Linked DNA regions of Homo sapiens: all the other regions are linked to region 3. The links come from fine-mapping of genetic effects on gene expression. A gene starts in region 3. Each other region holds a variant in brackets. All regions are shown on one strand. Distances are from middle to middle.

The links. PIP is the estimated chance that this variant, and not a neighbour inherited with it, causes the effect.
Region 1: its variant is fine-mapped to the expression of MED28 in naive CD8 T cells (Schmiedel 2018, PIP 0.95). The same link has a PIP of 0.9 or more in Th2 cells.
Region 2: its variant is fine-mapped to the expression of MED28 in whole blood (TOPMed, PIP above 0.99).

The regions. Positions count from the first base shown.
Region 1 is chr4:17,634,380-17,642,558 of GRCh38, forward strand. FAM184B (family with sequence similarity 184 member B) reads right to left here. Exons shown (of 18, transcript NM_015688.2): 13 at 7,677-7,849; 14 at 4,871-5,017; 15 at 2,149-2,266; 16 at 630-734. Among named protein-coding and RNA genes, the nearest start is that of MED28, 24 kb to the left of the region's middle. RefSeq lists a silencer at 2,409-2,498. The variant C/CAG (reference allele first, on the strand shown) is at 3,293.
Region 2 is chr4:17,515,868-17,524,046 of GRCh38, forward strand. It overlaps CLRN2 (clarin 2), which reads left to right. Exons shown (of 3, transcript NM_001079827.2): 2 at 6,997-7,176. Among named protein-coding and RNA genes, the nearest start is that of CLRN2, 4.8 kb to the left of the region's middle. The variant T/A (reference allele first, on the strand shown) is at 5,171.
Region 3 is chr4:17,609,640-17,617,801 of GRCh38, forward strand. It overlaps MED28 (mediator complex subunit 28), which reads left to right and starts at 5,002. Exons shown (of 4, transcript NM_025205.5): 1 at 5,002-5,174. The coding sequence starts at 5,016. MED28-DT (MED28 divergent transcript) reads right to left here and starts at 4,941. Exons shown (of 3, transcript NR_186331.1): 1 at 4,503-4,941; 2 at 4,293-4,399. RefSeq lists enhancers at 4,347-5,546, 4,652-4,941, 5,042-5,151.

The DNA.
Region 1 (8,179 bases), 25 kb after region 3:
GTGGTGCGATCTCAGCTCACTGCAACCTCCGCCTCCTGGGTTCAAGTGATTCTCCTACCTCGGCCTCCTGAGTAGCTGGGATTACAGGCATCTGCCACCAAGCCCAGCTAATTTTTGTATTTTTAATAGAGTTGGAGTTTCACCACGTTGGCCAGGCTGGTCTTGAAATCCTGACCTCAAGTGATCCACCCACCTCGGCCTCCCAAAGTGCTGGGATTACAGGTGTGAGCCATTGCACCCAGCCAAAAATACTATTTTTTAAGAGCCTTTAGGATTTTGTGATAGTAGATAATTGAATGTGAATATGCTCATTGTGAAAAATTCCAAAAATATGTACAGAAATAGTTAAGAAGTGGAAGATTCTTACTCTTCTCCCTCCCATCACCTAGATAGAGCTATTCTTAATACTGACACACATTTATTCTAGAAAATTTGGAAAATACAAAATCCCATAAAAAATAAAAATCACACATAATCCGCCCAGCCATAGATATAAACAAGTGGGTTTTTTTTTTCCAATGAATATTTTTCTGAGCGTACACCAGCCCTTAAATAACCTGTGGTTACCTTTAAGAAAAACGAAACCAATGGAATTGTATAATGCATTAAAACCATTAGAACCAATTTACCTTCATGGAAGGGGTCAAATATCCCGGGTGAGGATTGAAAGAGAAAGACCGATTCCGGTGGGACATGGCACTGGGGAATGCTGCGTAGTGAAATCTTCTCTCTTCCTAGAAAACCAATACAACTGAGTCTAAATGAGCCTAACCACACAGCACTGGGTTTGACTTGAAGGAAGATGGCTGTGAGGGCAGAATAGAGAAGGAAAGTCCAGGGGAGGAAGGGGAAGTCAGTGGGAATAAAGCTGCCAGGCACTGAAGCTTTTGAGGAAGCACCTTTGCTTTTTTTATGTCCCCAGCCCCTCTTGTAAAGAAAAGGGCAAGCTGATGCCTTAGGAAATTGAAAATTCAACTGTTCTTAGCATGTGAAGGTAACCTAATGCAGAAAGTTAGTAATTAAGGCAAAGAAAGAAAACCCCCAGGTATGCAAAGGATTTTGCCGCCTTTCTTCCTCTGTCTTGTTTGACATTTGTGTTGCCTAACATATACAAACATAGGGAGAGTAATGAAATCCATCCCCACTTTACCTATAATAACTATATGGCCGATCTTGTTTGTGTGTATCATTTTCCACTTTTTTCTCTCCTGCTGTATTATTACTAAATTCCAGTTATTACATAATTTTTCTCTGTAAAAACATCAGTATGTATTTCTTAGAAATAAGGATTACTTTAAAAAAAAAAAAACCCATGATACCTTTGTTCACACGTAGCAAATGAGCAATAATTCCATATCAATGTCACCTAATTTTCAAAGCACAGAGAGATACAGAAGTGAGGCAGGTGAGCAGGAGCAGAAATGACCAGCAGGCCTTGGTTGGATACTGAATCAGAGGGAGCTGGGTTCTTTCCAAGGGGCTTAGGGAGTGGCTTTGCTAAGTAGAAAACAGGTGGTCATTTTTACAAAAAGAAGATCAACAATAAAAACACTAATTCTACTACAATTCAAACCTAAGCCATTATAGATTTTCTCAAATTCTGTAAGTTAAAAAACCAATATTAACATGGGGCAAATGCTGTTGGACTTGGGAGTAAAGTGATTTTTTTTTGCCTCCTATTTTCCTGTATTAATTTTTTAGTGAGTATGTCTTCTTTAATAATAGAAAAGAAAGGAGTTTTTCTTTGAGACAGTCTTGCTCTGTCGCCCAGACTGGAGTGCAGTGGCGCTATGCTGGCTCACTGCAACCTCTGTCTCTCGGGTTCAAGTGATTCTCCTGCCTCAGCCTTCCTAGAAGCTGGAATTACAGATGCCCACAACCACACCCAGCTAATTTTTGTATTTTTAGTAGAGACAGGGTTTCAACATGGCTAGGCTGGTCCCGAACTCCTGACCTCAAGTGATCCACCCGCCTCCGCCTCCCAAAGTGCTGGGATTACAGGCTTGAGCCACCGCGCACGGCAAGAAAGGATTCTTTGTAAGATATTAGGGCACCTAGAGAAATGCTGGGTGCAAGTGAACGCCCCTCCCGGGGGAGCCCGCAGTGCCCGGCCAGGTGCGTGGGTGAGGCGCCCCCTGACAGCCTCACCGTGAGCTGCTTGATGATGTCCTCTCTCTCCTTCAGGCGGGTCTGCAGGCGGCCAATGAGCTGAAGGTCCTCGGGCCTGGACGCTCCCTTCCCTGGCTTCTCTCCGGAATCTTTCAGTCTGTTCCAAGCAGGCATGCAGTCAAGTCCCCCTTACAGCAATTACTCAACAAAGAGGGAGAACAAGTGCACACGATGGGAATGCCATCCTGTGTTCAGCCCGGCCAGGGAGGCCCAGATAGCAGCAGCGGCTTGCCCAGGGCCCCCTGGGGAGATGGCTTGCCGAACCCAGGATTCCAGCTCTGTCAGGTCCCCTGAGGCTGCAGGGCCAGGAAGCAAAGGCCCCTGTGTGCACATAGATGCTGCACTCAGCGGGGCTTCAAGAGCCAGGGATGCTGCTGGGAGAACAGACCAGGGCAGGAAAATGTCCCGTAGGTTCTCTTAATGCTCTGGCGCCATCTGCTGGCGGACATAGAGCGCGGCCAGTGGCCGGTACCTATGGCCTTTTTTTTCTTTTTTGGAGACGGAGTCTCCCTCTGTCGCCCAGGCTGCAGTGCAATGGCGCGGTCTCGGCTCTCTGCAACCTCCGCCTCCCTGGTTCAAGCGATTCTTGTGCCTCACAGCCTCCTGAGCAGCTGGTACTACAGGCGCGCGCCACCGTGCCAGGGAAATTTTTGTATTTTTAGAGGAGACGGGGTTTCACTATGTTGGCCAGGCTGGTCTGGAATTCCTGACCTCGTGATCCGCCCTCCTGGGCCTCCCAAAGTGCTGGGATTACAGGCGTGGGCCACCGCGCCCGGCCCCCACTGCTTTTTCAGCGTGAAGCCAGAGAAGAGTAACTGGGTGGTGAGGAGAGGAGGGCTGGGGGTGCAGATAATCTACTGACTGGAGTTGATAAGAGCCCAGGGCTTTGGGTGAGATGACCCGGCTCTAATACTGGCTCTTCTTTTTTCTAGATATGTGACCTTGGGCATCATTTCACCTGTGTGTGGGCCCCAGTTCCCTCTCCTTTAAAATGGGCATGAAACTGGGTGGTTGTGAGAATTCAATGTGATAATGGGAGCCTGGCATATAGTAAGTGCCCGTTAGACTGTAACTGGTAAAACCTTTCCTGCTGGCTTTTGGATGATTTGCTTTGTATTGGAGA[C/CAG]TGGAGAAGTTTTTAAGAGCTCAGGCTAAAGGTCAGACAGGTGACATTTAAACTGAATTAATGCTGCCTGACCTTGGGCAAGTGGCTTCACCTGTTTGGACCTGGCTTGCTGCCATCACATCCTAAATGGTCTTGCTAGTCACCCCCTCCCCCTGTTTCTTCTCAGCAGTCAGAAGTGACCCTGTGAAAAGGCAAGTCAGGCCATGTCACTCCTGCCCAGTGCCTTGTGAAGGCTTCCCAGGGCACTCTGAACACATCCAAACTCCTTCCCATCAGGGCAGGAGTCCCTTCACCCAGCTCCTCTCCTCCCACTCACCCTCCCTCTCACTGATGCCTCAGGAGTGCCCTCACCTCCTTGTACTTAAACATCACCTCCTCACAGAGGCCTTGTTTTGCCCACCCTTGCCACTCCCAATCCTGTCTTCCAGCACTTTCACCGCCTGGTATGATGTTAACTGTTTGCTTTTTTTTTTTTTTTTTTTTTTTTTTTTTGAGACAGGGTCTATTTTTTTTGTTTTGTTTTGTTTTGTTTTGAGACAGAGTTTCTCTCTCTGTAGCCCAGGCTGGAGTGCAGGGGTGCAATCACAGATCACTGCAACCTCAACCTCCTGAGCTCAGACGATCCTCCCGCCTCAGCCTTCCAAGTAGCTGGGACTATAGGCACACACCACCATGCCCAGCAATTTTTTTTTTGTATTTTTTGTAGAGACGGAGTTTCACAATGTTGCCCAGGCTGGTCTCGAACTCCTGGGCTCAAGCAGTCCACCCTGGGCTCAAGCCTCAGCCATGCAAAGTGCTAGGATTACAGGCATGAGCCACCAAGCACAGCCTGTTTGCTTATTTCTTATCCGAATTCTCAGCAGAATTTGTGAGCCTATGAGAGCATTGTCTTTGTTTTGTTCCCTGCTATAACTCCAGAGCCTAAAGCAGTGCTGGGCATACAATGGGTCCTTAACAATTATTTGTTGAATGAATAAATGCAATATGTTTGCATGAGGGACCAGTGGGAATAACAATTCTAATTGAGCAGCCCTGATCCTTCTGATTTCTTCGAAGTGTGAGGGTTAAACCAATGCTCATCCTCACAAATTCCCACTGCCCTGCAGAAAAGGGGAACATAGCCTCATAAAATGAAGGGAGACTGATGAGCCCCTGGCTAGTTCCCCCCACCACACCCCGCCTCCTGCCCTGAACTTGCTCTGTTGCTGAAGCTGGAGTGCAGGGTCCTGATCTCCGTTCACTGAAAGCTCTGCCTCCTGGGCTCAAGTGATCCTCCTGCCTCAGCCTCCAGAGTAGCTGGGATTACAGGCGTGTGCCACCACACCTGTAATTTTGTATTTTCAGTAGAGATGGGGTTTCGCCATGTTGGCCAGGCTGGTCTCCATCTCCTGAGCTCAAGTGATCCACCTGCCTCAGCCTCCCAAAGTGCTGGATTCCAGGCATGAGCCACCGTGCCTGGCCAGAACCCAGGACTTTCAATTTGAAAACCAGGAAATCCCAGGGTCATTGGGGTGAGTTGGCCACCCTACTGAATGGTACATTTGCAAGACCCTCCCTGGGGCCCGAGGCCTCACTTACTCGGCTTCCAGGGCAGCCAGCCGGGCCTGGAGCTGGGCCTGGGCACTACTGAAATCTGCCACCATGGCCTGCATCTCCTTCCGGTGTTCCTGGCGCAGTGTCTCCACCTCCCTGGCCCGCTGGGCTTGCTGAGTCTCCTCCAGGAACCTGTGGTGGATGAAAGCACAGCCAGGCTTGCCCAGCTCCAGGGATGGCACCCCTTGGGCTCTGGGGTTTATTTCCCTCATCGCTGCCCAGTTTGGGAGATCTGGGTGGGGAGAAATTGTGATCTAAGGACACCTGTGGGAAGAAGAGCTGAAGTCTCTTGAGTTGTGGAGTCCAGGACAAACCCCCACTATGGGACCCCTTCTCAGCACCCTCCCATCTCAGAAGGAGAAACCTGAGCATGGGGACAGACTTCAGGTGGAAGTGATGGAGAGCAGCCCTGCAGGGGAGCCCCAGAAAACACACTCTTCACTTGGGACAGGCGGGGAGGCAAGAGGCTGAGATTCTCTATCAGTATGGCCTGAACGCTGGGACTCTGAGACCTGGGAGACCAGGTCTTCCCTAACAACTACACTGCAGTGGAAAGCCTCCCTGAACTTTTTTTTTTTTTTGAGACGGAGTCTTGCTCTTGTTGCTCAGGGTGGAGTGCAATGGCACGATCTCGGCTCACTGCAACCTTCACCTCCCGGGTTCAAGCAGTTCTCCTGCCTCAGCCTCCCAAGTGGCTGGGATTACAGGCGCCCAGCACCAGGCCCAGCCAATTTTTTGTATTTTTAGTAAAGACGGGGGGTTTCACCATGTTGGCCAGGCTAGTCTCGAACTCCTGACCTCGGGTGATCCATGCGCTTCAGCCTCCCAAAGTGCTGGGATTACACGCGTGAGCCACCACACCTGGCCACTCCCTGAATCTTTATCCCTCACCTTTATCAAAAGAAGTGGTTATGAAAATTAAATTGGGCTGGGTGCGGTGGCTCACATCTGTAATCCCAGCACTTTGGGAGGCCAAGGCGGGAGGATCACGAGGACAGGAGTTCGAGACCAGCCTGACCAACATGGTGAAACCTCGTCTCTACTAAAAATACAAAAAAAAAAAAAAAAAATTAGCTGGGCATGGTGGTGTCCGCCTGTAATCCCAGCTACTCAGGAGGCTGAGGCAGAAGAATCACTTGAACCTGGGAGGTGGAGGTTGCAGTGAGCCGAGATGGCACCACTGCACTCCAGCCTGGGCAAAAGAGCAAGACTGTCTCAAAAAAAAAAAAAAGAAAATAAATGAACAAGCACAGTCAAGGCTCAAAGCAATTTTGGGCCAACACAACAGGGTTCAGTGTACACAGCTGACAAATATTAAAAAAAAGGAATCCTCCAGACATTAAAATGACAAAAAAAATTATGAGCAATTTTATGATTGGCATTAGGACATTCAAAAACTTGGATGAAATAGACGAATTCTTTGAAAGATACAAACTGCTAAAGCTCACTTAAGAAATAGATAATATGAAATATCCTGTGTCTTTAAAGAAATTGAATTTGTATTAAAAGCTTTCCAACAAGAGGAAGAAAGGCTCTGAGTTCAGGATTGATGATAGGTTTTTCACTTCTACAATTAACCAAGCGTTTCATTCATGCTAGGGACATGCCAAGCCTCCTGCACACATTCCATTGCACTCTACAACAGCCCTGACAGGCCAGGTTTTTTGTTTTGTTTGTTTTGTTTTTTGAGACAGATTGTGGCTCTGCCGCCCAGGCTGAAGTGCAGTGGCCCGATCTCAACTCAGTGCAACCTCCACCTCCCAGGCTCAAGCAATCCCCCCTCACCAACCTCCCGAGTAGCCGGGACTGCAGGCATGCACCACCACGCTTGGCCAATTTTTCTATTTTTAGTAGAGACGGGGTTTCACTATGTTGCCCAGGCTGGTCTTGGACTCCTGACCTCAAGTGATGTGCCTGCCTCAGCCTCCCAAAGTACTGGTATTACAGGCGTGAGCTACCACGCCAGCCGAGGCTGGAGTCTTATCCCCATTTTACAGAGGACTCAGTCTGGGAGAGGTCAGCTAACTCACCCAACCTCACACAGCTAATTAAGAGCGCACAGCTAGTTAAGAAGACACCGCATGGTCTGAACTATTCCACTACACCGTCTCCGTAAGGTTGGATTTGATGACACTTTTGGTCCAATTCTCAGTCTCATAAATGCCCTGATTTGCAGGGAAACAAACAGGACTCCCTCTTTTTTTTTTTTTTTTTTTTTTTTTTTTTTTTTTTGAGACGGAGTCTTGCATTGTCGCCCAGGCTGGAGTGCAATGGCGCGATCTTGGCTCACTGCAACCTGGTCCTCCCGAGTTCACGCGATTTTCCTGCCTCAGCCTCCCGAATAACTGGGATTACAGGCACACACCACCACGCCCGGCCTTTTTTTTTTTTTTTTTTTTTTTTTTTTGTATTTTTAGTGGAGACAGGGTTTCATCATGTTGTCCAGGCTGGTCTCGAATTCCTGACCTCGTGATGCGCCCGCCTCTGCCAACCAAAGTGCTGGGATTACAGGCGTGAGCCACCGCGCCCAGCCAGACTCCCTCTTTTATTTCAAGGCACTTCCTCTGCGGTTTTGAGATCCAGAATTTCTGGAGCTCTGGGACTTTTCATGGGTCAGAGGAGTAACATCTGTGAAATGCTGGCGCATTCAGTGTCTAGTGTCTTGTGGGGCAGGATGCCGAGGCAGTGACCCATTTCAGGTCTCAGGCTCAGCCAGCCGCAGTAGGGGGAGGGGGGGTGGCGGGGTAGGGGGTGAGGGTGGCGCGGTGGCGGGGCGCGCCGGGTCACCCACCTGCGCTGGTCTCGGAGCTTCTGCGCCTCCTGCTGATGCTGCTCCACCTCCGCGCGCAGCCGCCGCACCGCGTCCTGGAGCTGCGCGTTCTCCTCCCAGAGCCCGCATCCCTCGCCGGAACCCTGCCCAGCAGCGCCCGGTGGGGAGCCGGCCTGGCCCGGGCCGCCCCGCTCCTGAGGAAGGCAACCAGGAGAGGTGTTTTCAGGAGGCGCAGGGGCAGACAAGGCAGAAAGGGCCAGAGATGTGCTGCGGCGAGATGGAGACCCACTGGCACCCCGCCCAGGCTGGAGCCTGTGGCAGGCTCCTGAGTTCCCTGCAGGGACTCCCATCTAGTCTCTTAAAAAATTTCCTCCTTTGGGAGTTGGCCAAATCTGGCCCTTAGAGTTTAATAAAACTGCTGAGCTAAGAATGGGTCTTGCATCCAAATGAACACCAACCACACTCCACACTCCACCTGCCAGGGTGCCCTCCATGCCTGCCTCAGTGAAGTCTTCCCTCCGTGA
Region 2 (8,179 bases), 94 kb before region 3:
TACAGAAGGAATTGTTAATGTTCCCATTTTCCAGAGGAGTACACTGAGGCTTGGAGAGGTTACATAACTTACCTGAGGTCACCCAGCCAGGAAACAGTAGAGCCGGACTCCAGACCCATGCCACATGACCACAACAAGTGGGTGGAGGCTGCCTGCAGAACTGAACCTTTGGGAAGCATGATGACCCTTTCCACATCTACTTTTGTAAAAGCTTCATAGTCTGAGAAAATGCAAAGGGGCACTGTGCTTGGGTTCTGGAATCAGACTACCCTGGCTGAAACCCCTACTGGAAAGTTTACTGGTGGGGAGACCTCAAGCAAGGCACTTGCCTGTTCTCTGTGAACGTGAGCGGGCACCGACTTTGGCTGGCATTCAGTGTAGCATCAGAGCTGCCCAGGATGTAAGCAGAGCAGTCTGCACAAACAGGAATCCAAGCTGGACTTAGGAACGGGCTTCTGGAAAGGAAAAAACAAAACAGGCAATATTCTGCAAGCCTTTTGAATCGATGAGATCACTGGTGAAAAGTGTCTGCACAAAACCGTAATTAATCAATACCATGCCAATGTAGGGTGATACAGAATTGTATTCATTCCTTGATTTCTATATTTCAGTATTGTAGTAGTTTATAGAAATCTGGCCAAGGTAAATGTCGTATTAAATTTATAAGGACAAAAAGCTGGAACCGTTGACAAATATAATACAAATTGTCATCATTTAAACACACAAAAATTTACATTTGTTATGTATATTCAAGATCAATATGTCTGGGCATATTTATATTTACCTAGCAATTAGATTAGACCCTGGATATTGAACAAATAGCTCCATCAAAATTATAACATAAAACTTGAAAACACACACACATAAACAAATAAAAAAAAGAAATGCTAAAAGCTAACCATGACAACTACATGGACTACTCGATTCTGAACTAGATGCTTTGCTATAAAGGATGTCTTCGGGACTTTAGGGGTCAAGAAAACTTCCCCTTTGCACTCTGAAGGTTCTCTAAACAATCTACTGACAAAAGGCAGATTAATAGGGAAAATGGCTTACACATTTATTAGCATGCATAGGGGAAAAATCACAGAGTGATTGTCCGCTATCTCAATGGGGTACAGGTGGTTGTATCCTCTTCATCTTAGGGGAAAGAGAGATGGGGAAGTGTGGATGATTTTAGGGGACTAGTAAATTATTTTTAGGGAAATTCAATGGGCTTAAAGAACATACAGTGAGCTGGGACAAAGTCTGTTGAGCCCACAGAGCAGACATTGGTTTGTGACAAAAGTCTGTCCAGCTGTGTTAACAGACTTTAGTCTTTCTTCCTGTGATATGGGTACAATTAATGAACACTCAGGGAAGGGACCAGAGGTCTTTTTCTTTGGTAGGTCTGGATGTAGGCAGGTAAGGGAATGTCAGAGAACAACCTCATCCTGTGCTTATGAGACAGACAAAGAATGGAGAGACACGAGGGAGAGGGGAGGCCAGAGAGACCTTGAGACTTCTTCACAAAGCTTCATATTTTAGGGGTGTTGGTTTCTGAACCCCAACAGGTAAATCGTTGAAACTTGAATGGGGTGAGAAGATTAAACAGCAGTCACATGCCAGCATTAACCTAATGACCAGACCCCTGCCATTCCCAGCTCACAGAAATGTAAACTGCTTCGAGTAGGAAGCTGCAAACAAATGCATATTTTGTTTGAGCCTTGGAGGAACTCAGTAAGTACTTCTTGCCTTCCTCCTTCTTCCTTCTTAGAAGGACACCAATGGGAAACATTCCCCTGGGTTCATCTAACGTGGTCTGGTCTGGAAAGCATCAGAACCCTGTGAGAAGCATAAAGGACATTTTATTCTTGTCCCTGAGTAGGAGCGTATTTGAGAAGGTTTTGTTTCCTGCTGCCCTGGGGTTGTCTCAGAGGAGGGTCTGTAAACATCCATTCGCAGTACCTTGGATGTGATTCTCTTTCAAAGCATTCACGAGGAGCCTGGGGCCAGGTTCCTCCTGTGCTTGGCTGGCTTTACCCCAGTACAGCTCAGGGACACTGATAGTGCCAGTCTAGTCTCCTTTAGATTTACAGCTTTTAATTCTAGCACAGTGTAACCTCGAGGCAGCTACGGGGTATATCAGAGCCTCCCACAACCAGGAGTCTGTTTCTCCTGGGGTCTCTTTCTGCCATTCACTATCCATCTGTAGAAAAAAAAAAAAATAATCCCCACAGTCGCAGATCAGTGTAGATGGGGACGTAAGTGAAAATGCTTTGCAAACTCTGGGATGGGGAGGTTTATTGGGTCTCGTTCACAAACAGCCACTTTTCTCATCACAGAGGCCTCCCCAAAAAATCACCCAGGGGAATAAATTCCCACGCCAATCATGGAGAAAACCAAAGAACTATCCATCGCAAAGATTAAGGTCCTTTTTTTATACCCAGGCCCTATGAAATAAAAACAAGTCAACATGGCTGTTTGGGTGGCTAGAGAAAGAAAAAGACAAACATTACTTTAGCATTGTCCACACATTCAATTGTACTATGGAGTATTTACAGACCAGGCTCTTAAGAAAACAGGGATGAACAAACCAGACAAGTACTTGCCCTAGAAAAGCTTAACATCTGGCCGGGTACAGTGGCTCACGCCTGTAATCCCAGCACTTTGGGAGGCCAAGGCAGGTGGATCACCTGAGATCAGGAGTTTGAGACCAGCCTGGCCAACATGGTGAAACCACGTCTCTACTAAAAATACAAAAATTAGCCGGGCGTGGTGGCAGGTGCCTGTAATCCCAGCTACTCAGGAGGCTGAGGCAGGAGAATCACTTGAACTTGGGAGGTGGAGGTTGCAGTGAGCCAAGATTGTGCCATTGCACTCCAGCCTGGGTGAAAAGAGTGAAAATCCATCTAAAAAAAAAAAAGAGAAAGGAAAAAGAAAGAAAAATTTACCATCTGATAAAGGAGAGGCAGATAAATATATACTAGGCACAGAACACAGTATCTGAAGCCATTGCCTTGTAGTTCATTTCCTTCCATTTTTACTATGCTAGAGAAGAGATTTTATTACGCCCATTTTACTGATGAGGAAATTAGAGACCAGAGAAATCGATACATAAAATAATTTCTTTAAAAGCACCTAATGTAATAGATTGCTTTGCAGCTTTTAGTTCTCTGGTTCCTCTCTACTTCCTGCCTCACAGGTATTCCACTAGTGGCCAGGACCTGGGTTTGACTTCAGATGTCCTGCTTTTCTTATTTGCCCTGCTGGGGCGAAAAGGACTGCCAGACCTCTCTGGGATTCGGAGCAAACAAATTATCTTAGATGCTGATAGATGCTGATAGATGCATCATATGCTGATAGATGCTGATAGATGCATCATATGCTGATAGAATGATGCTGATAGAATGATTAATCAATTCTGCTTTCAAGTGAGTTGCCTCTAATGTGTAGGAAACAACTATATCTATTCAAATTCAAAATGAGACCTCCAGGATTCAAAAGACTCTATGTTTAGAATTTTAAACCTCTACTTATCTGTGCTTTCTGATTTTTCTGCTCTAGCCCTGTAATAGAGTAGTTAAGCTGACACTTTTCTTGCTGTGGGAGCGTAGCTAAGCTATTTCACTTCTCCGAGCCTCAGTTTCCTCATTTGTAAGCATGAGAGAGGGTGTCCATGAGCAACAGAACAAAGAATATGTATAAAGCCACCGGCACATAGTCTGCACCCCATATAGGTGGCTGTTGTCATTTATCACCATGAATCGTGTTGTCATTTATCACCATGAGTCGTGTGTAGGGTCATGGATTTCAAGCTAGAAACTTAAATTTAATTCCTAGTGGGAGACATCTAAAACTCTTGGAACCTGGATTTCAAATGTGAAAGGCAAGTGAGCAACAGCTTTCCTAGGGCAGCACTGGGTGTCAGGCTAAGGCAGAGTCACCTCTCAGTGAGAAAGTAGAAAGAACTGGTGCATTAACACTCCTGAGAAATGATTTGAATTTCTACTTTTTTCTTCTTTTTTAAAAAATAATTTAATTTAGAGACAGAGCCTTGCTATGTTGCCCAGACTTATCTCCAACTCCTAGCCTCAAGCAATCCCCCCATAATGGCTCCCAGAAGTGCTGGGATTACAGGCATGAGCCACTGCCCCAGCCTCGAATTTCTAAATAATGACATATATTAAAAAATAATAAAATCTCTATTAAACATGAGGTCCTGAGCCCTGTGTTATGGCCCAAGAATGTGGGGGTTGAGTGAGATTTGCCCTTTGCCAATAAGTATTTTTTAATTATAGTTAATGCACTTCCTACTATGAAGGCCGAGGACTGGGCACTCTTTACCACCCTCTCCACATCACTCCACATTCCCCAAATTCCCTCTCCCCCGTCATCCTAATATGATTATTTCTCAATTTTTAAAAATCAAATCTGGATATGGTTTCAATCATTATGTGGATATAATTCTTTCTTTTTAAAAGATGAATTATATACATTATGGACATTATGGATACTTTATTAAATCAGTCTATTCACATACTGTTTTTTCTCCAATCTTTTGCTATTGTAATGAATATCCAATATTTGATCCACGCTTTGAGCACATGTGGGAGTGCTTCTGGAAAATAAATTCCTAGAAGTGAATTTGCTTTAGTAGATGTTGCCAAATTGCCCTCTAACAAGGTTACATGAATTAATATTTCTATGAGACTTGAGAGTGCCTCTTCCTTACACCATTGTCAACACGGTGTTTTAGCAAACATTTTGATCTTTACCATTCACATAGGTGACTGTTTTCTATTGTAAGAGTTTTGGTAAGCATTACTATGTTAGTCGTGTGTCCTAAGGATTGCCTGGTTAAGAAAGGGGATAATGAAACAATTTAAAAATCAGGCACAAGCGGCAGGGTCTGGTGGCTCATGCCTGTAATCCCAGCACGGGCAGATCACTTGAGGCCAGGAGTTTGAGACCAGCCTGGTCAACATGGTGAAACCCCCGTCCCTGCTAAAAATGCAAAAATTAGCCAGGCATGGAGGCGGGTGCCTGTAATCCCAGCTATTGGAAAGGCTGAGGCATGAGAATTGCTTGAATCAGAGAGAAGGAGGTTGCACCAAGCCGAGATGGTGCCACTGCACTCCAGCCTGGGTGACAGAACAAGATTCTGTCTTTAAAAATAAAAATAAATAAA[T/A]ATCAGCACAAGCTACTGTGTCTGAAACAAAAAGGGGCTGAGAGTTTGAAAAGAGAAAAAAAAAATCTAAGGGACATTAAGATGGGATAGAAGCACAGGGAAGAAAGACGCTTTACAAAGACAAACTCACTGGAAAGGAGCTCATCTTCCAGGGTAAAGTTTCCAATGCTGATTAGATAACCATAGGGAGATAAAAATAAATGGAAATTCAGAACTGGAAAGAAACATCAGAACGCACAATGTAAACGTGGAGTGCCTGAAAATGTGTCACCTAACGGGACACCTAACGGGAAAAACAAAAACTCTAGTTCTCAGGACTGGGAGACGCCAACCTTCAGTGACTAAGAGAGGCAGGTGAACCAGCAAAGGAACTAGTTCCATCAGGGTGGGTATTCAGCAGGAACCTTGGAGCAATTGCAGAGGAATGAGTATGCTCAGAAGTTCTGTAGCTTTCATAATGTTCAATTCTTCATGTAAAACTACTAAAGATCATGACTTGACACTGTTGATACCATACAGTTGTGAACAACAGTTCTCAGAAAAGGAATTTGGAGTAAAGAATTTATTCCAGTTAACGGTTTGCAAACCAGGGAAACACAGCCTCCGGTGTAAAAGGAAGGTGTATTCCAGAGAAGAAAGGGAAGGCTCAGATTTTATAGCAAAAGTTCCCACCCAGGTTTCCAGTCAGGTCTGTTTGGGTAAATAAAGGATTCAAATTCACTTAGTTCTGATTGGTGGATACAGCTGAACCCTGATTAGCTGGTACAGCTGAGCCCCGATTGGTCATTACAGCTGAGCCCTGATTGGCTGAGGCAGATCTCAAAGATAAAAAGGTGTGGGTTTTCAAGGAACTCAGAAGATGCGTGTGACCCCCTAGTCAGTAAATGGCCACTTGGCCCTACTTTAAATTTAGAGCCAGTTAACCACTCAGGACCCATCTTGAAGGACGGGCTCTTTCAGGGTCACATTTGTTCTCATAGTATATTGAACTATAATCTTATATAGAATTAAGAGTTGCCTTCCCCAAACACAAGCAATTAATGTCTCCAAGCCTGTGGGTATAAGGAGTTTATAAAATCTACCTCATGTCTTTGTCATGCACATTGAACAAGATGACGATGTAAAATGTTTGGCCCATGACTGCACTTAGTAAATGTTGATTATCCTCAATTCATATGCAGGGATTACTATCCCCATTGTACTGATGAAGAAATTGAGGCTTGAGAAGTCACATGACTTTCCCAAGACTGTCAAAATATAACAGCAATAACCACAGCTGCCATTTTTGAGAACTGACTTTCCCAGGCACTATTTGAGCTACTCTATTATGTTATGTCATTTCATCTTCACAGCTGGTACTGCTGGCAAACATAGAGAAAACAAATATGAATTAAGATTTCACTAACTTATTTTGCCATACTCATAAGGCAAATTAATATTTTAATAAAACGTTGTGCAACGTGAGAATTATGTGTCCTTCATACATGGGGATAAGCCAGGGTCTACCTTGCTAAGTCACTGGGGCCTGTGTGCATCAGTTCACATCAGATCCCAGAGCTTCAAGCTCAATGCAACTTAAATTGACAGCCAGGGCATATTTTGATTTTGTGTCCACTCTAAGGAACAGAGGCTTGTTGGTCAACTGACAAGCATGAATCTGGGGGCCATGAGTTCATCTCAGAAAGTCTCCCGCTGTTTGAAATCCCCACGCTTGCTGTCTTGCCCTCACCCCTGTCTGTCGAAGCCTTCGTGGTAAGCAAGCTTGGACTTCATGAAAGTGAGTCTAACTCTGACATTGAAATAGTGGCTGTGTCTTGTCTCCCCAGTCTTCCCACACCTGGTGAAGGAGCTCAACGCAGGCCTTCATGTGATGATTCTGCTGCTCCTCTTCCTGGCCTTGGCCCTGGCTCTGGTCAGCATGGGCTTTGCCATTCTTAACATGATCCAGGTCCCGTACCGGGCAGTCAGCGGTCCTGGGGGCATCTGCCTATGGAATGTCCTGGCAGGTAAGAAGTCCCTTAGGGAGAGAAAATTATGTCCACACCATCATAGGGCTGGGCTCCAAGTAGTTGGGCAGAAGGTGTGAAGGAACTAAAATGCCCCACTGGAGCCTTGACCTTCCTGGGTCTAAGACCTTCTTGATGGGCATGGAATGAATGTCCTCTTTTTCTTTTTCTTTTTTTTTTTTTTTCTTTGAGACAGGGTCTCACTTTGTCACCCAGACTGAAGTGCAGTGGTGCGATCTCAGTTCACTGCAGCCTTGACCTCCTGGGCTCAAGTGATCTTCCCACCTCAGGCCCCCAAGTAGCTGGGAGTACAGGCGTGCACCACCATGCCCAGCTAATTTTTTGTATTTTTTATAGAGACAGGTTTCACCATGTTGCCCAGGCTAGTCTCAAACTCCTAAGCTCAAGGGATCCACCTGTCTTAGCCTCCCAAAGTGCTCAAGAATTTCCTCTTTAAGTTGCAGAGTCTGTCACAACAAAGAAGCATCTTATTAGAGTACGTGAATGGCTGAGGGCTTAGAGCAGTGAAGAGAGATCGAGGTGAAAGAAGAAGCCAGAAGACAGAGAGCTGGAAGTAGGGAGAGGTGGGGGCCCTGAGATGGGAAAGAGATGGAGCTGGTGCTGCAGCTAAGGCTGGGAGGAACTCCACAAATGACAGAAGAGAAGGGTAGTGTGAGCAAGAGGCCATTCGTGAAAGGCTCCTCCATTCAGGCTCTGGGTTGAGAAGGGGAAGTGAGTGCCATCTAGTTGCCAAGGTCTTTGGTGTTCCCCCCACACACACACTTGGGCATATTAATGCAGACGTGGCTCACTGGCTGTCTCAACTCTCCCTCCTCTCACCTCCCCAACACCTTCACTGCACCATGCCCTTAAACTAGATGCAACTTACTGAGCAACCACTAAGGGCTGGGCAGGGACCTGGAGATTTTGCATGCATTGCTTCATTTAAATCTCACCACATCCCTATGGGAGGTATTATTAGACCCACAATTACAGATGAAGA
Region 3 (8,162 bases):
GCCCAGGAGTTTGAGGCTGCAGTGAGCTATGAGTGAGCTATGAGCCACTGCACTCTAGCTGGGGCAACAAACCAAGACCCCATCTCCTAAAAAAAAAAAAAACGGGGACTGTCAACGGGTAAAACTGTTTGCTCACCTCCTGAAACTATAACCAATCAACATAATTCCATTGGTGCAGACTTAGAACAAAGCTCTCCTCGTTTTTACTTTTGTATCCGATGAATCAAATTAATCCATCAATGGGATGTGTGCCCTTTTTTTAACTTTGAAAATGTTTAACAGGAAAAGCTCTTTGTTACTGTTAATTTTAACATTTAAGAAATTTGACATGCAAAAATATTGTATATCTAAACTGGTTTACAGAGGGAATGGAAATGGGCATGCTTGTTTGTGGTATTTATTAGAATTAAAACCCGGTGAGTGTAGTGAGCAAACACAGGTTTCCCTGGTTATTCATGTTCAGAAGTCACTTCATCAGGAAAGATGGAATTAGAGGGTTGGAATTACAGGCTTATGAAGAAAACTGAAAACAGATTTATTCTGGGTGATACAGAGCCTCAGTCGGGCTTTGATAGAAGGATTCTGTCAAAGGCTTTTTATGGATAAAGGAACAGTGGAACTCCTGTGTTTACTAGTGTGTGGTATACAAAAAGCATAGCACAGGCCCTGGTTTCATGTGGCTTACCTAATCTGGTTGAGATGAAATTTTTTTTTTTGAGACAATCTCATTCTCTCACCCAGGCTGGAGTGCAGTAGCACGATCTCAACTGACTGCAACCTCTGCCTCCCAGGTTCAAGCGATTCTCATGCCTCAGCCTCCCAGGTAGCTAGGACTACAGGTGCACACCACCACGCCCAGCTAGTTTCTGTATTTTTAGTAGAGATGGGTTTTGCCATGTTGCCCAGGCTGGTCTCGAACTCCTGGCCTCAAGTGATCCACCTGTATAGGCCTCCCAAAGTGCTGGGATTACAGATGTGAGCCACCGTGCCTGGCTGAGATGAAATTTAATAGTTGTCACTGAATGTACATCTAGCTGCCAGGAACTTCACGAACCCTGTGTCTCCTAAAAATACAAAAACTAGCTGGGTGTGGTGGCATGTGCCTGTAGTCCCAGCTACTTGGGAGGCTGAGGCAGGAGAAATCACTTGAACCCGGGAGGCAGAGGTTGTAGTGAGCCAACATTGCACCACTGCACTCCAAAACCAACCTGGGTGACAGGGCGTGATTCCCTCTCAAAACAAAAAAAGGTACATTCAAATCATACTAACATTCCATTCCCAACCAGTTGGTTGTTAAACAAATCATGTTTATTTGACCCAAGTCTCACCACCGCTGTCTCAACTGCCCTGGTACAAGTCACCATCCTCTCTGCACTCCTAGATTACTCTCTTTCACTGGTCTCCCTGCCTTCTCCACTTGTTCTCCTGTTATCTGTATGACTAGAAAGATTATTTTAAAACATAAATCAGGCCGGGCCCAGTGGCTCATGCCTGTATTCTCAGAATTTTGGGAGGCCAAGGTGGGAGGATCACTTGAGGCCAGGAGCTCAAGATTAGCCTGGGCAACATAGTGAGACCTTATCTCTAAAAATTAAAAATAGGAGTTACATCGTGTCACTCCTTAGCAACTTAGTTTATGCAAGGCACAGTATTAAACCTCTACATAGATTATCTTGTTCTTAGTAATTTTTCTAAGGCAGTGTTCTCTCATCTTATAAATGAAGTGATGGGTTTTCAGCAAAATCCAAAAAATGTTAGTGCTTTTTTGTGCAGTACTCTAGGAGGACTGCAAGAGAAATACCACTGACCATGTTCGCAGGAAATTTACAATGAGGTTAGGTAAACTGGATATTAATGAGACTTGAAAGGCTGGGCACGGTGGCTCACTCCTATAATTCCAGCACTTTGGGAGGCCGAGGTAGGTGGACTGCTTGAGCCCAGGAGTTCAAGACCAGCCTGGGCAACATGGCAAGACCCCATCTCTACAAAAAATTAGCCAGGTGTGTTGGCACATGCCTGTAGTTCCAGCTACTTGGGAGGCTGATTGGGAGAATTGCTGGAGCCTGGGAGGCGGAAGTTATGGTGAGCTGTAATTGTGAAACTGCACTGCAGCCTGGGCAACAGAGTAAGACCCTGTCTCAAAAAAAATATATATATATAGAGAGAGATTTGCAAAAAAGTAAAATGATGCCATACTTTTTACTTATTCCTTATTTTAGAAAATAGAGTATTAGTTTTAATAAAGATTGTTTTTGTTAACATTTAATGAATTATTTTTTAATGAATTGATTTTTAAAATTCTGTTTTTGTTTTTTTTGAGACGGAGTCTTGCTCTCAACCAGGCTGCAGTGTAGTGGCATGATCTCGGCTCACTGCAAGCTCTGCCTCCTGGGTTCACCCCATTCTCCGGCCTCAGCCTCCCAAGTAACTGGGACTACAGGCGCCCGCCACAACGCCTGGCTAATTTTTTGTATTTTTAGTAGAGATGGGGTTTCACCATGTTAGCCAGGATGGTCTTGATCTCCTGACCTTGTGATCCGGCTGCCTCGGCCTCCCAAAGTGCTGGGATTACAGGCATGAGCCACTGCCTCCAGCCTAAAATTCTCAGTTTTAACTTATCAGATAAATATTAGCAGACTTAACCCACATAAACAAAAACTTTGGGATCCTCAATAATTTTTAGGAGTGTAAAGGGGTCTTGAGACCAAAACTGTCTGAAAACTGCTGGAGTAGGCTTGTTTCCTCCTGGCGGTCTCTTCTGGTTCTTTCAGTCATCACATATTTATTATATCTATTATGCCAGGCACCATTCTAGATTCTGGGGATACAGGTGAATAAGATGGGCAGGCTCTGATGCACGGAACTTATTTTCTAGTTGGCATGTGTATGACAGAGAGAGAAGGAGGAGGAGGGCAGGTGATTCAGTTATGAAAAAATGAACAAGATAATTTCAGATTACATAAATGTTGTGAAGAAAATTAAACAGGGGAAAGTACTTAGGAGTGGGGATCTAAGTGAAACTGAGGCTGGGAAGATGACTTGATCCGAGCCTGGTTGGCAAAGGGAAGCTCCTGCTTTTTCTCTGAACATTTCTGCCCTGGCTCACTCCTCTGGCAATGAGCTTCCTGTGGTTCCTTAAACATCCCAGGCAGGCTGCTTCTTCAGGGATCCTTCGGTGTAGAAAGCACTCCTAGTTAAATTTTCATGCCAGTCACTACAGTCCAGATCTCCTTGGAGAGGCCTCCTCCAATCACCTATCTCAAAGAACACCCCTCTCACTAGCCATCCCCTTACTGGGTTTCATTTTCCTTCCCAGCTCTTCTCTCTGCACAATATTGCTATGTATTTATGTGCTTGTCTGTCTCCTTCCAGAGATTTGGGATGATTGCTATAACCTCCAGATCATTAAATAGTGCCTGGGAAGTGGAGCGCTCAGTAAGTGTGCTGGGTAATAACTGTAAAATCAGATATAATGAAAAAAAGTTATTTGGTTTTAAAGAGATAAATAAGAAGGTTGGGCACGGTGGCTCACGCCTGTAATCCTAGCACTTTGGAAGACCGAGGCGGGCGGATTGTCTGAGCTCAGGAGTTCGAGACCAGCCTGGGCAACAAGGTGAAACCCCGGCGCTACTAAAATACAGAAAAACTAGCCGAGCGGCGGGCGCCTGTAGTCCCAGCTACTCGGAAGGCTGAGGCAGGAGAATTGCTTGAACCCAGGAGGCGGAGGTTTCAGTGAGCCGAGATCGCGCCACTGCATTCCAGCCTGGGCGACAGAGCGAGACTCCGTCACCAAAAAAAAAGAGAGAGATAAGCAAATGTTAAAAGCAGGTTACTACAAGATTAGCAGCCTAGTGCCGGGCGCGGTGGCTCACGCCTGTAATCTCAGCACTTTGGGAGGCCGAGTCGGGCGGATCACGAGGTTAGGAGATCGAGACCATCCTGGCTAACACGGTGAAACCCCATCTCTACCAAATATACAAAAAATTAGCTGGGCGTGGTGGCGGGCGCCTGTAGTCCCAGCTACTCGGGATGCTGAGGCAGGAGAATGGCGTGAACCCGGGAGGCGGAGCTTGCAGTGAGCCAAGATCGCGCCACTGCACTCCAGCCTGGGCGACAAAGCGAGACTCTGTCTCAAAAAAAAAAAATTAGCAGCCTGGCGCCTTGGCTCATTACTGTATTCCCAACACTTTGGGAGGCCGCGGCGGTAGAATCACTTGAGCTCAGTAAAACACCTGACTCAACTAAAAAAAAAAAAAAAAAAAAAAAAAAAAGCCCGTCGCGACTGCACGCACCTGTGGTCCTAGCTACTTGGGTGGCTGAAGTAGGGGGATTGTTTGAGCCCGGGAGGTCGAGCCCTGATCATGACACTGCACTCCGGCCAGGGCGACAGAACGAGACCCTGAGAAAAAAGAAAAGAAAGAAAAAAAAAGATTAGCATAGTGACTTTCTCTTTGATGTAACCATAAATATTTAAAGACATCAGTGCCGGGCACATTGGGAACCTCAACAAAGTTGTTTCCGTTATCCATCTCCGACCAGAATTCAGGAAGAACTTTGCCTGTCTTGTTCCCGCTATAACCAATGACTCAACAAATGTTTGTGGAGTGAGTGGGTGACCCTCTCCTTTTACCAACGGTAAACAGCCCGCGGAAAGAAAAAGTGACTTAGCCAAAGTCTCTCCAGGCATTTGGGGCAGAGTCGGGACTAGCATAGTAGTATCCTGACTCTCGCAGGAGGGCTCGCTCCACTGTAGTTATTAATTCTCCTCTCCACACAACCAGGTCTAATCCGGCCAAAGTCTTCAATTCTTAAGCTAAGAAAAAAGGAAAATACATGTAAACTCTGTTTTGCGATAGACAAGAAAACAGAAGAATTAAAAATCCTCCTTCCGGGGTGCACCAGAATCCTCCCATCGCTCGGTCCTGTCACGTGACCACGCCTACTACACCAGCCACGTGAGCTTCTGAGCCGGCTTCCGCGCAGGCGCAGTGGATCTCTCTTGCGCCATTCCAAACATGGCGGCTCCACTAGGGGGTATGTTTTCTGGGCAGCCACCCGGTCCCCCTCAGGCCCCGCCGGGCCTTCCGGGCCAAGCTTCGCTTCTTCAGGCAGCTCCAGGCGCTCCTAGACCTTCCAGCAGTACTTTGGTGGACGAGTTGGAGTCATCTTTCGAGGTAATATAAGACATGGGCGTCTTTGTCCCTAGCCTTCCCTTTTTTCTGAAACGTGAACTGCGCGTACGCGTATCTCCTCCAGGGATCCGAGCAACTAATTCACAAATGGGGAAACTGAGGCTTAAAGTAAGTCACTTGCTTTAGGCTTCCCCGTGGCCCGTATTCAATTCAGGTCTGCTGGCGGGGGCGCGTAAACTCGACGTTTGTGGAAACGTGAACCCGAAGTTTGCCTAAACCCCAAACTTGGAACCCTTCCAGATTCCCAGCCGGTCCTTAGTCTCATCCCCGAGCACCGTTTCTTGCATCCCTGCATGTTTAGTAAGAGGCTCAAGCCTTTTCGGAGCTGAGAGTTTCACTGCTGTATCCTGTATCCTTTCCGCTGGGCTTCACCTTTAAACGATCCTAAAGGGACTCTTAAGAGCGGAAATTGACTTAAGTTACCAGGCGCAGCTTGGTACTAAGAGCTGAGGAAGGAGGAATGCTGGAGGTTAGGGAGGGAGGGAGGCACAGGTGACCCAATCTCTCAGTTTTGCCCAAGGAGTTTACCTTGTAGCAAGAAAGGTGAACTGTATATTGAGGGAAGATAGAGAGGTGAAAATAAGTGCTCTGGTGATTTCCAGTAGTCTTTAAAGTGGAAGATGAGCTATTCCTGTGTAGTAATAAAGTAATGTACGTTCAAATTGGAGTTAACTTTTCCACATTTTAAATCCCAGTTTTGCCGGGCGCGGTGGCTCACGCCTGTAATCCCAGCACTTTGGGAGGCCGAGGCTGGCGGATCATGAGGTCAGGAGTTCGAGACCAGCCTGACCAACATGGTGAAACCCTGACTCTACTAAAAATACAAAAATTAGCCAGGCGTGGTGGCGTGCGCCTGTAATCCCAGGTACTCGAGAGGCTGAGGCAGGAGAATCGCTTGAACCTGGGATGCGGAGGTTGCAGTGAGCGGAGACCGCGCCATTGCACTCCAGCGTGGGTGACAAGAGCTCGACTCCGTCTCAAAAAAGTAAAATAAAATATAAATAAATAAAAATCCCAACTTTGTGACTTTTGTATTGTATCTAATAGCACAGTGGTAAATGAATATAATTTGCAAGCGATTATTCAGACTGCATGGACAAAATGCTTTTACCACACGGATGTACAAAGATTTAGAAATAAATGATTTGAGATGGAGTCTCACTCTCTCGCCCAGGCTGGAGTACAGTGGCGCAATTTCGGCTTACTGCAACCTCCGCCTCCCGGGTTCAAGCGATTTTCCTGCCTCAGCCTCCCGAGTTGCTGGGATTACAGGCACCTGCCACCATGCTATTTTTTTTATTTTTTAGTAGAGACAGGGCTTCACTATCTTGGCCAGGCTGGTCTCGAACTCCTGACCTCGTGATCCACCCGCCTCGGCCTCCCAAAGTGCTGGGATTACAGGCGTGAGCCACTGCGCCTAGCCAGAAATAAATGATTTAAAGGACAGACCGTTTAGGAGGAGGAGGAGGAGACACCTTTGAGGTGGTGCTAAGTGGTAAAGGAAGGGGCTGGTGAACTTTAGAGCAGCATCTAGCATTGTGCTTGAGGGGAGCTGGCTCTCAGTCATGGGCACTTGCTGAAAGACTGGCCCTGTACAAGTCTTAGCCAAAGTTGACTCCCAGCACCCTGCTGCTTAAAAACGTACAGTGGCTGCTTGTTGCCCTTGAGATAAGATCAAGATGTTTAGTGTGGTCTCCCAGGCTTTGCATGTTGCGTTCTCTCCTTCAGACTCGTTTCCTTACTGCAGCCACACAAGACTTTCCCACGTGTACCATTTGTTTTCTCTTTGGGCTTCCAGGCCGCTCCTCAGCTCACTGCATCACTTCCTCAGTGGACCCTTCCCTGGCCTTCTTTTTAATACTTACCATTAAATTCGGCTCCATGAAGTCAGAGACTACCTGTTTTGTACCCCCACCCCTCACATTGTGTAACCTGTAGTGCTAATACAGTGGTAGTAGATAGCAAGTGCTAGATGAATATTTGTCAGACATTGAAGGAATCTGTAGTGTGGAGCCTGTAGTGTAGTTGGCTTGTGCACAGAACTCCTTGCCTGATTCACATATATGTCTGTAGGTGCCCTTGAGAGAGAACTCCCTCTGGGACTTGATTATCCATACAGAGAATACAGAGAAAACCAGTCCCTGCCTTCAGGAAGCTTGTAATAAACGGCAGGCAGTTGCCTTGTTGTAGGATCACTGCTCTGATAGAAGAAACCTGGGGTACTGTGGGAGCACATATAGGTGTGGACATCAAAGAAGGCTTCCCAGAGAGCAGGAAAGCCAAAGAAGCATTTTGACTTAGCCAGGTGAAGGGGAGTGGGAGTGGTGCGAGCTGGATCCTCTCTGCTGCTGGGTGATCACGATCTGTCTAGTCTTGTCTCACGATTCAATTCAAAGGCCACATTTTCTTTGGAACTTTTCCTGTTTCCTTCCTTGTGTTCTGTGTGGACCTCAATTTTCACAGCCTCCAGTGGCACATAGCAGCACCTACTTACCTGCTTCTCATTCCTATTGGGGTGCCACTCCTTGAGGTCTCTGTCTGCTCATTCTAGCTGCTTAGCACATGCTCTTTGATGGAAGGAATTTATTGAGCTCATGCACTCTTGATTTTGGAGGGAACGTTGGAGACCATCTAGTTCCATTTCCTCCATTCATAGGTAGAGAAACTGAGGCTCAGTGAGGGCAAGTTACTTGCTGAAAGCCAGCCGTTGGGTTTGTGGAAATGAGGACAAGCACTTACTTTCCAGGCAAAGGCTCTGTTTTAGCCATGCTTTTAAAAAGCTGTTCTCTTTCTAGGCAGATGCGGTGGCTCACGCCTGTAATCCCAGCACTTTGGGAGGCCAAGGTGGCTGGATCACTTGAGGTCACGAGTTCGAGACCATCCTGGGCAACATGGTGAAACCCCATCTCTAACTAAAAATACAAAAATTAGTGGTCTCTGGTGGCACACGCCTTAATCCCAGCTACTTGG